Linked DNA regions of Homo sapiens: region 2 is linked to region 1. Evidence: fine-mapped expression QTL. A gene starts in region 1. The other region holds a variant in brackets. All regions are shown on one strand. Distances are from middle to middle. Region 1 holds the start of CD1D (CD1d molecule). Region 2 overlaps OR10K1 (olfactory receptor family 10 subfamily K member 1).

Region 1 (5,382 bases):
TGGACGTCCGAGAGGTAAGAGAGCTATCACAAGGTTTTCTAATCCTTATGTTTCTTTTAGTGGATCTCCAGGTTACTGTGGTTTGTATTATCAGGCTACTTACAAAAATGAATACCTCTTTAAATCAGGCCATTTTACAGCAAACTACGGTCCTTGATCACCATTATGCTCTGAATAAAGACTATGAGCAATTGCACTTGAATGCTGTTAAACTTTATTGACTGAACTTTGAATTGTTTGATTTTGATCAGGTTGGCTTGTGGAAAGTGCTATTAAGAAGAGTTCTTTAGTTCGTTGGTATTATCCTCCTGATAGCTATTATAAAAGTTTCCCTGATGTGTCCTCTCAAGAATCTTAAATTCTCATATGCAGCTATCCTTTGTACATTAAATGGTCTCCTTATGGTTAGGATAACAAAAACATGAAGAAAGCATATAAGATTCCAACTAATTTGACGTTGTGAATTGTGAATTCTGAACTGAAACCAAGTAAGTCCCTTATGATCAGGCTCCAAGGTTTTGGTCAGCCTCTCAAAATTGAGAGGCTGAAACCCTTTGACCAAAATTAACACATTTGCCCCTTCCCTCCAGCTCCTGGAAACCACTACCCTAACTCTGTTTCCATAAAATAGTAAACTATTTTAGAGTCCACATATAAGTGAGATCATGTAGTACCCACCGTGGGCTTATTTTAAGGCTCTGAGTAAATCACCATCTCTCTGTGCTAGGGTATTCTGAGTCAGTCTTGTTATAAAATATTTTGTTTAGGTAACATATTGCAAAACGTTTCATAATTCAATGGTTCCTTTCCCAGAAAAAAAGCAGTGAAAGTTCCAATAGCCAAAAAGTGTCTAACTCAACTGACCTTTGGGAAAAAATATCCGTATAATTCCAGATAGTCCTAACTTCTGAAGGTAATATAGCCTGGCCTCTGTTGATAAACAAACAAAAACAAAAAAACCACACACACACACACAAACCAGCTTCTTGTCTTTAAGTGTGCAAGAATGTTAGCACTTAAAATTTTTAAGATACACAAAAACTAAACAGAACTGTTCAAGTTTTTAAAGGGAGCTTGGAAATTTGAAGAAAGTAAAGTTAAAAATATTGCCCCATGAGTCATATAATTATTTTTCTTTTTATTTCTCATAGCTTCCCTCCTATCCATTATTTAGGCAATTTTGTATCCAAATTTAATAATTTAACACCTTATTTGTTACAAGAACACGTTACTATGTTATTTTAAGCTTTTTTGGGCAAATTACACATAATTAGATAGGCTGGGTTAGGGCTGTCTACAAGATCCCAGCCTAGAGTGTGGTGCAGTAGCCTATTTTCTCTAGGACTCTTGCTGCAACAGGATATGGGAGAAGGGAAACATTAACGTTAGCAGAATGGGAGGAATCAGATTATGGAGACATGATCCTTGCCTTCTGGCACCTCTCCAGCTGATTTAGAAGAGGACACAGAGGGAGACAGACATATGGCCATTTCTATAATTATAAACTCTGCTACATGCTGAGAGGATGGCTTCTCAAAGCCAGTTAGTGTACAAGCAGTGGAGGTTGGGACTGCCCTACTTCTCCTGCCTAGGGTCACACAGTCTGGCAGATCTGGAAAGACTTCCCTGAGAAAGTGACCTTGGAACTGATACCTTAGTGGAAATAACTAGGCATTGGGAGGGGGTGAGGTGAGGAGAAGGTCAAGAGCTTTCATGTAGAGGGAACTTTGTGCAGAGACCTTAGTCAGGAAGAGGTTTTGCATAGTGGAGGAACTGAAAGCTAACAGCCAGGCTACAGTACAGAGCAAATGATGCTGGGGTGTGAGGTGATGTCAAAAGGTAGACACCAGGGCTAGAGGGCGCATAATCTTGCAGGCCGTGCTAATGATTTTGTTTTCTACCCAAGAATGCTACTTCAGGAGATCAGTCAAAAGGTTAGGGTGATGGTGACGGTGGAAATATAGAAAAAGGAATTTATTCAAGAGGTATTCAAAAAGAAGTGAAATAGAGATGAGTTGGAGATAGATTGGATAAAAAGAGTGAGGGAGAGGGAGGTGTCAGGCTGCAGCCCAGGTTCTGAGTTGCCAAAGAGGAGTCTTTTCCTCCAGGTGAGCTAAGGCTTAGAACCACGATTTTTGGTCACTTTTTCTTATTTTCAGTGTGAGAAGTGGCGAGTTGGCTGTCCAGGTACACACTGTCATCTTACACTTACTGTTTAAGACAGAGGCGCATATTTGGAAAGTGAATGAGTCAGGAGCCAGAGGAGAAGGTATGCCGGCAGAGCCTAGGGCGGAGAGGAGGAAGAGAGTCTGGGGGCGCGTCCCCAAAAAGGAGACAGGGAAGACAGAGCAGAGGCCGGGGAGGGGAGAGCAAGGACCATGACAGGAGGAAAGAGAGGCTAGGGAACACTGAGGTGGAGGAATCCTGGGATATGACAGTTGTAAAGAATTGTAGCCAACCTAATCCAGTTCTCTCAATGTGCAACTGAGGAAATTAATTTTCATGCGTTTACTTTATTGTAAATGTGGTACTTGCACTTGAGAAATTTTGGAAAACATAAAGATGTAAAGCAAATTAAGATCACTCATAGTCTTTCCACCTAGAGACATGTACTGCTAAAGCAAGGACTTTGATCCTTTTTTCCCTTTGCATTTTTACCATGGTTGGAATTGTAACACAGACACAACCTTATGTCCTGCTTCCAAAACATAAATAATGGTTGTAAAGCGTCCCACACGTTGACCCAAAGTCTCCTTTGAAACAGGAAATTGAGACACGCCGGTTGTGAAACCTACTGAAGTGAGCGGCGGCGCCAGGATTCCTGGGACCCCGACCTCTTTGCAGCTCGCACAGCTAAGGGCGAGGGCGCCCTTCGGCAGAAGCAGCAAACCGCCGGCAAGCCCAGCGAGGAGGGCTGCCGGGGTCTGGGCTTGGGAATTGGCTGGCACCCAGCGGAAAGGGACGTGAGCTGAGCGGCGGGGGAGAAGAGTGCGCAGGTCAGAGGGCGGCGCGCAGCGGCGCTCCGCGAGGTCCCCACGCCGGGCGATATGGGGTGCCTGCTGTTTCTGCTGCTCTGGGCGCTCCTCCAGGCTTGGGGAAGCGCTGAAGGTGGGTGGAACGAGGGCGCTTGAGTGCACTCGCGGGAGGGCGGAGAGAGGGAGCTGGGTAGGGACGGGGAGGGCAACGCCTGATGGGGACTGGTGAGACCCGGGACGCACTGGCGCGATCTAGGTAGAAAACTCGCTGCTCCCTGGCTCCGGGGAGAGGCAGCGCGGCACAGAGTTCGCTGGCATCAGCCGCCTCCTGAAGCTCATCTCCTCTTGTTTCTTTCTTCCTTCTCTTTATGCTGGCTGCTCTCCCGGCCACTTGCTACACGCCTCCAATCTTCATTCTCTCCCAGTCCCGCAAAGGCTTTTCCCCCTCCGCTGCCTCCAGATCTCGTCCTTCGCCAATAGCAGCTGGACGCGCACCGACGGCTTGGCGTGGCTGGGGGAGCTGCAGACGCACAGCTGGAGCAACGACTCGGACACCGTCCGCTCTCTGAAGCCTTGGTCCCAGGGCACGTTCAGCGACCAGCAGTGGGAGACGCTGCAGCATATATTTCGGGTTTATCGAAGCAGCTTCACCAGGGACGTGAAGGAATTCGCCAAAATGCTACGCTTATCCTGTGAGCTGAGGGATAGGATCCTGGGCCGGTACCCAAGGGGAGAGAATGGCCACAGAAACTCAACTGGGAGACTGTGGCACCACCTGATGAGATTCTCTGCTCTGTCCACCCTCTTCTGATTTCCCTTCTACCTGGAGATGTCCCAGGCTTTGACTCCTCAAAGTGTCCCTCGTTCCTGCCTACTCCAGGTCACTTACTTTCCTTTCCCTGAAGTCTGGGTCCCCATTATAACCTGCACATCAATTTCTTCTCTTTCATCTCTCCCAGTCTTTTAAACCCTTCTTTGATCTTTCTCCATTCCTCTCCACAGATCCCTTGGAGCTCCAGGTGTCCGCTGGCTGTGAGGTGCACCCTGGGAACGCCTCAAATAACTTCTTCCATGTAGCATTTCAAGGAAAAGATATCCTGAGTTTCCAAGGAACTTCTTGGGAGCCAACCCAAGAGGCCCCACTTTGGGTAAACTTGGCCATTCAAGTGCTCAACCAGGACAAGTGGACGAGGGAAACAGTGCAGTGGCTCCTTAATGGCACCTGCCCCCAATTTGTCAGTGGCCTCCTTGAGTCAGGGAAGTCGGAACTGAAGAAGCAAGGTCAGCCTGCCTTCCTTACTCCCTGCATTCCACTTCAGGGCTCCAAACGGGCTTTTCCATTCCAGGGTTCTCATCCCTTTGAGCATTCAAAGAAGAGGAAGGCCCAGGAGGGGCTGGATAAGGGGTGAGGGTATTTATTCATTTCACAGACATCAACTGAGCACCTCTTGGGTTCTATGAATTCAATTAATGAACAACTGGGGGTGAAAGGTGTCAGGCAGTTAGTTAGGATCCCTGCTTGGTAGGGGGATGTTAATTAATGCAATGCTTGAAATAGGCTACATATGTTACTTCAAAACAAAGGGTGTTATAGGGGAACAGACAAGGGGCATTCATAGGAGGCTGGGACCAGAGAAGAAGAAGGAGTATCAGGGCAGGCTCCCTGAAGAAGGTGGGACAAATGGATTGAAAGTTGTGGGAGACTTCATTTCCAGAAGTGAACATGTCAGGGGCATACAGGAAGGAGGGAAATAAAGACCTGAAAGTCAAAAAGGATGATATGAGGCCTGGAGCCTCTAATGCAGAGTTTTCACTTTAAGATCCCCCCCATTCCCTTGTTGGATACAGTGAAGCCCAAGGCCTGGCTGTCCCGTGGCCCCAGTCCTGGCCCTGGCCGTCTGCTGCTGGTGTGCCATGTCTCAGGATTCTACCCAAAGCCTGTATGGGTGAAGTGGATGCGGGGTGAGCAGGAGCAGCAGGGCACTCAGCCAGGGGACATCCTGCCCAATGCTGACGAGACATGGTATCTCCGAGCAACCCTGGATGTGGTGGCTGGGGAGGCAGCTGGCCTGTCCTGTCGGGTGAAGCACAGCAGTCTAGAGGGCCAGGACATCGTCCTCTACTGGGGTGAGAAAAAGCTGGGCCCAAGCTGGAAATGGCAGGAGGTGGTCCTCAGGCATAGAGGGAGGCACTGGGGTGGGATGTGGCTTGATATACCCAGGTTAGAGGAGTTTCAGAGATGAGGCCCCCAGTAAAAGGATAGAGAGAGGGGTTCCAGACACAGGAAGGAGGGAAATAAAGACCTGAAAGTCTAAAAGGATTGAAATAGTGCTCTCTATATACAAGAAGAAACAAGACTACAAAACTCAGGGATCCAGAAGTAGGCAGCGAATAAACAATCCCAGGA
Region 2 (5,382 bases), 290 kb after region 1:
CCACCACATCTGGCTAATGTTATTTTTTGTTTCACTGTTGACTCAATGTTTCAACTTGTGGAACTTCCAATAGTATTTCTTATTGTTCCCTTGGAGATATAAAAAGTTCCCAGTAAATAGATGTGTGCTCACATCTTTACTTAGAGACCATGGAATACTTTATCTCCTTTCTCATTTCATGGTTGGATAAACTGAAGTCCACATGATTATGTCTGAATATTATTCATTCTTTCGTTCTATATTCTGATCAGCTTCAGGTAGCTGAAGTTAACGTTTTCCACTTTGGAGAGTGAGTTGCCTTGGGTTTATAGTAAGTGACAAAAACAACAATCTCTCTGTTACATAAGAAGGAAAACTATTAGCAAATTTCCTAATCCTTGGTCAGAGAGATAACCTGTTCTTCACATTAGAGAAGGCCTCCAAACTGGCTATCAGTTATTCTTTTGCATATTTTGCCTAATTCTTCTTTTAGCAGGCATTTTAATGGGGGAATGAAGAATTCCATCAAATATCTGGAAATGCCTGCCACCTGCAAACTTTGTGTGAAATTTCCCGTACATTTCCACTCTCCTTTCTGGATCCTGGTTTCTACCTCTGTCCCTGACTCTCCTTTATAGAAGTGCTCTCCATGGAGCAAGTCAATAAGACTGTGGTGAGAGAGTTCGTCGTCCTCGGCTTCTCATCCCTGGCCAGGCTGCAGCAGCTGCTCTTTGTTATCTTCCTGCTCCTCTACCTGTTCACTCTGGGCACCAATGCAATCATCATTTCCACCATTGTGCTGGACAGAGCCCTTCATACTCCCATGTACTTCTTCCTTGCCATCCTTTCTTGCTCTGAGATTTGCTATACCTTTGTCATTGTACCCAAGATGCTGGTTGACCTGCTGTCCCAGAAGAAGACCATTTCTTTCCTGGGCTGTGCCATCCAAATGTTTTCCTTCCTCTTCTTTGGCTCCTCTCACTCCTTCCTGCTGGCAGCCATGGGCTATGATCGCTATATGGCCATCTGTAACCCACTGCGCTACTCAGTGCTCATGGGACATGGGGTGTGTATGGGACTAATGGCTGCTGCCTGTGCCTGTGGCTTCACTGTCTCCCTGGTCACCACCTCCCTAGTATTTCATCTGCCCTTCCACTCCTCCAACCAGCTCCATCACTTCTTCTGTGACATCTCCCCTGTCCTTAAACTGGCATCTCAGCACTCCGGCTTCAGTCAGCTGGTCATATTCATGCTTGGTGTATTTGCCTTGGTCATTCCTCTGCTACTTATCCTAGTCTCCTACATCCGCATCATCTCTGCCATTCTAAAAATCCCTTCCTCCGTTGGAAGATACAAGACCTTCTCCACCTGTGCCTCCCATCTCATTGTGGTAACTGTTCACTACAGTTGTGCCTCTTTCATCTACTTAAGGCCCAAGACTAATTACACTTCAAGCCAAGACACCCTAATATCTGTGTCATACACCATCCTTACCCCATTGTTCAATCCAATGATTTATAGTCTGAGAAATAAGGAATTCAAATCAGCCCTACGAAGAACAATCGGCCAAACTTTCTATCCTCTTAGTTAAAGAGCTATTTTTTAAACTACTAATGCCTAGTACATGCCAGGCAGAACGTGTGTTTTATACATTTTTTTTCATTTAATTGTCCAGCTCCACTGTAACATAAGAACATTTTACATATGAGAAGAATGAGGCTCACAGAAGTTAAGACAGTCTGGCTTTCTACTCTCCATGATACTTTAACAAGACTAATCAGATATGGGAACAGAGCACACAGTTCCATAACAAATTTAATTATATTTTACTGCTTTAAATATTGCTAATTTAAAAACTAATATGAGAGCAAAGATGCATCTAAACTGATGAGAGCTGTGTCTTGAAGTAGAGAGCTTGGATACATCAGGAAAGAAAAGATGTATCCAAAAAAAAAAAAAGAAAGAAAAAAGAAAAAAAAAAGGAAAACAGCAGGAAATCCATCTATCCGTACTTTTCTTTTCCTAAAGACAACAGAAAACTTTGGTCCCACACATTCTGCTACAAATCTTGGTGGTCCTTTTTGTCCCCAATTCATTTCCTTAACCTACATATTGAAATATCTTGGCCTTTACTTGGGGTTGTTTTGTTCTTCCTTTGTTTGAGGTGGAACCACTTTATGGTTCTCTTCCTGATGCACATGTATGTCCTTCACATACTAGTGTGTCTTAGCCCCCACATTTGTTCCTGAGACACCATACTAATTTGCTCTCTTCAAGGAAGCTACTAGCATTGCCTACTTGCTGAAATATCTCAAGTAATTCCAAGCAAAGGGCTTGAGTTAATATTAATAGAAGGCTAGATTCCTAGAATGACCAGAAAACTCATGGAAAACCCTCCAGTGACTCCCTTTGCCCTACAAGATAATGCCAAGGGTCCTTCATTGTCATGAATCTATCATCTAGTTTCCACCTACCTCTTCAGTATTATCATTTCTAATTTTGTTATTCTCCATTTTCTATATGCCTTTTGTACACTCTGAAGCTAACCAACTATTTGCTTGTTTTAAAACAAATAAATGTGATGAACAAAATAAATGTGGTCTCTGCCCTCATAGGCCTTATTGCCTGGTTCAAGATAGTCCCAGTAAACAGAAAAATGAGGGAAAATACCTTACCAGTTTAAGTTGATTCTCTGAAGAAAAAGTGCATGCAGGCGATAGAGGAGAGAATACTAAGATAAACCTAATTTAGATCGAATGGCATAGGGTTGGTTTCCCAGAGAAACTGAGAGTTAACCTGCATGTAACCTGAAGGGTAATTAAAAGTCTTCAGGTAAAGGGGATATCCTTTAGGACAGAAGAAACAATGTGTACAAAACCCCTGAAGCAAGAACTGGATGAGTTGGAGACAAGCAAAGAAGGCCTGTATAAATGCTGTTTTAAAAATGCTTTTCAATTGACAAAATTATATATAT[T/A]TATGGTGTAAAACATGATATTTTCTCCCATCCTGTAGGTTGCCTGTTCACTCTGATGGTATTTTCTTTTGCTGTGCAGAAGCTCTTTAGTTTAATTAGATCCCATTTGTCAATTTTGGCTTTTGTTGCCATTGCCTTTGGTGTTTAGACATGAAGGCCTTGCCCATGCCTATGCCCTGAATGGTACTGCCTAGGTTTTCTTCTAGGGTTTTTATGGTTTTAGGTCTAACATGTAAGTCTTTTATCCATCTGGAATAAATTTTTGTATAAGGTGTAAGGAAGGGATCCAGTTTCAGCTTTCTACATATGGCTAGCCAGTTTTCCCAGCACCATTTATTAAATAGGGAATCCTTTCCCCATTTCTTGTTTTTGTCAGACAAAGGGCTAATATCCAGAATCTACAATGAACTCAAACAAATTTACAAGAAAAAAACAAACAACCCCATCAAAAAGTGGGCAAAGGATATGAACAGACACTTCTCAAAAGAAGACATTTATGCAGCCAGAAAACACATGAAAAAATGCTCATCACTGGCCATCAGAGAAATGCAAATCAAAACCACAATGAGATACCATCTCACACCAGTTAGAATGGCGATCATTAAAAAGTCAGGAAACAACAGGTGCGGGAGAAGATGTGGAGAAATAGGAACACTTTTACACTGTTGGTGGGACTGTAAACTAGTTCAACCATTGTGGAAGTCAGTGTGGCGATTCCTCAGGGATCTATAACTGGAAATACCATTTGACCTAGCCATCCCATTACTGGGTATATACCCAGAGGATTATAAATCATGCTGCTATAAAGACACATGCCCACGTATGTTTATAGCAGCACTATTCACAATAGCAAAGACTTGGAACCAACCTAAATGTCCAACAACGATAGACTAGATTAAGAAAATGTGGCACATATACACCATGGAATACTATGCAGCCATAAAAATAATGAGTTCATGTCCTTTGTAGGGACATGGATGAAACTGGAAACCATCATTCTCAGCAAACTATCGCAAGGACAAAAAACCAAACACCGCATGTTCTCACTCATAGGTGGGAATTGAACAATGAGAACACATGGACACAGAAAGGGGAACATCATACACTGGGGACTGTTGTGGGGTGGGGGGAGGGGGAGGGATAGCATTAGGAGATATACCTAATGCTAAATGACGAGTTAATGGGTGCAGCACACCAACATGGCACATGTATACATATGTAACAAACCTGCACGTTGTGCACATGTACCCTAAAACTTAAAGTATAATAATAATAAAATAAAAAAATTAAAAAAATACAAAAAAAACATGATATTTTGATACACATATGTATTGTAGAATGGCTAAAGTTAATTAACATATACCTTTAGCTCATGTACTTATTTGTTTGTGGTGAGAACACTTACAATCTACTGTTAGCAATTTTCAAGTATATAATACATTATTATTAACTATAGTCACCAAGATATGCAGTAGAGCTTTTAAAATTATTTCTCCTATCTAACTGAAATTTTGTACCCTTTGATAAACATTTTCAAAACTCTCCCCTCAACTGCTCAACCAATTTCAGCCTCTGGTAACCAACATTCTACTCTCTGCTTTTATGAGTTTGACTTTTTTTAGATTCCACATATGTGTGAGATCACATGGTGTTTGTCTTTCTGTTCCTGGCTTATTTCACTTAGCATAATATCATCCAGGTTCATCCATCTTGTTGCAAACAGGACTTCTTTCTATATATGGCTGAATAATATTTTATTGTGTATGTATACCACATTTTCTTATATTAGGTTGGTGCAAAAGTAATTGTGTATTTTTTTTTGCCATTACTTTCAATGGCAAAAACTGCAATAACTTTTGCACCAACCTAATACATTTGTCCGTTAATAGACACTTACTTAGGTTGATTCCACACCTTGACTATTGTGAATAATGCTACATAAACATGGGAGTGCAGCTATCTCTTTGACATTCTGACTTTATATCGATATACATCAAGTAGTGGAATTACAAGATCATATGGTAGTTATATTTTCAGTTTTTTGAGGAACCCCTTACTGAGTTCCATAATGGCTGTACTAATTTACAACTGTCAACAGTGTGTAGGGGTTCCCTTTTCTCCAAATCCTCCCTAACACTTTACATCTTTTGTCGTTTTGATAATAGCCATTCTAACAGGTGTGAGGCGATATCTCATTGTGGTTTTAATATGCATTTTCTGATGAATAGTGGGGTTGAGCATTTTTTCAGCTACCTACTGTCCATTTATATGTCTTGGGAAATGTCTATTCAGATTCTTTGCCCATTTCTAATTGGGTTATTTGTTATTTTATGATTGAGTTTTTAAAGTTCTTCACATGCTGTGAATGTTAACCCATTATCAGATATATGGTTTGCAAATATTTTCTCTCATTACATATGCTGTCTCTT

Evidence for each region. PIP is the estimated chance that this variant, and not a neighbour inherited with it, causes the effect.
Region 2: its variant is the best candidate, but not a certain one, in a credible set for the expression of CD1D in whole blood (INTERVAL, PIP 0.57).

The regions. Positions count from the first base shown.
Region 1 is chr1:158,178,055-158,183,436 of GRCh38, forward strand. It overlaps CD1D (CD1d molecule), which reads left to right and starts at 2,841. Exons shown (of 6, transcript NM_001371762.2): 1 at 2,841-3,108; 2 at 3,401-3,667; 3 at 3,978-4,256; 4 at 4,824-5,102. The coding sequence starts at 3,048. RefSeq lists a silencer at 1,850-1,899 and an enhancer at 3,312-3,371.
Region 2 is chr1:158,464,934-158,470,315 of GRCh38, forward strand. It overlaps OR10K1 (olfactory receptor family 10 subfamily K member 1), which reads left to right. Exons shown (of 2, transcript NM_001004473.2): 2 at 473-2,525. The coding sequence starts at 629. The coding sequence ends at 1,570. Among named protein-coding and RNA genes, the nearest start is that of OR10R2, 4.6 kb to the right of the region's middle. The variant T/A (reference allele first, on the strand shown) is at 2,954.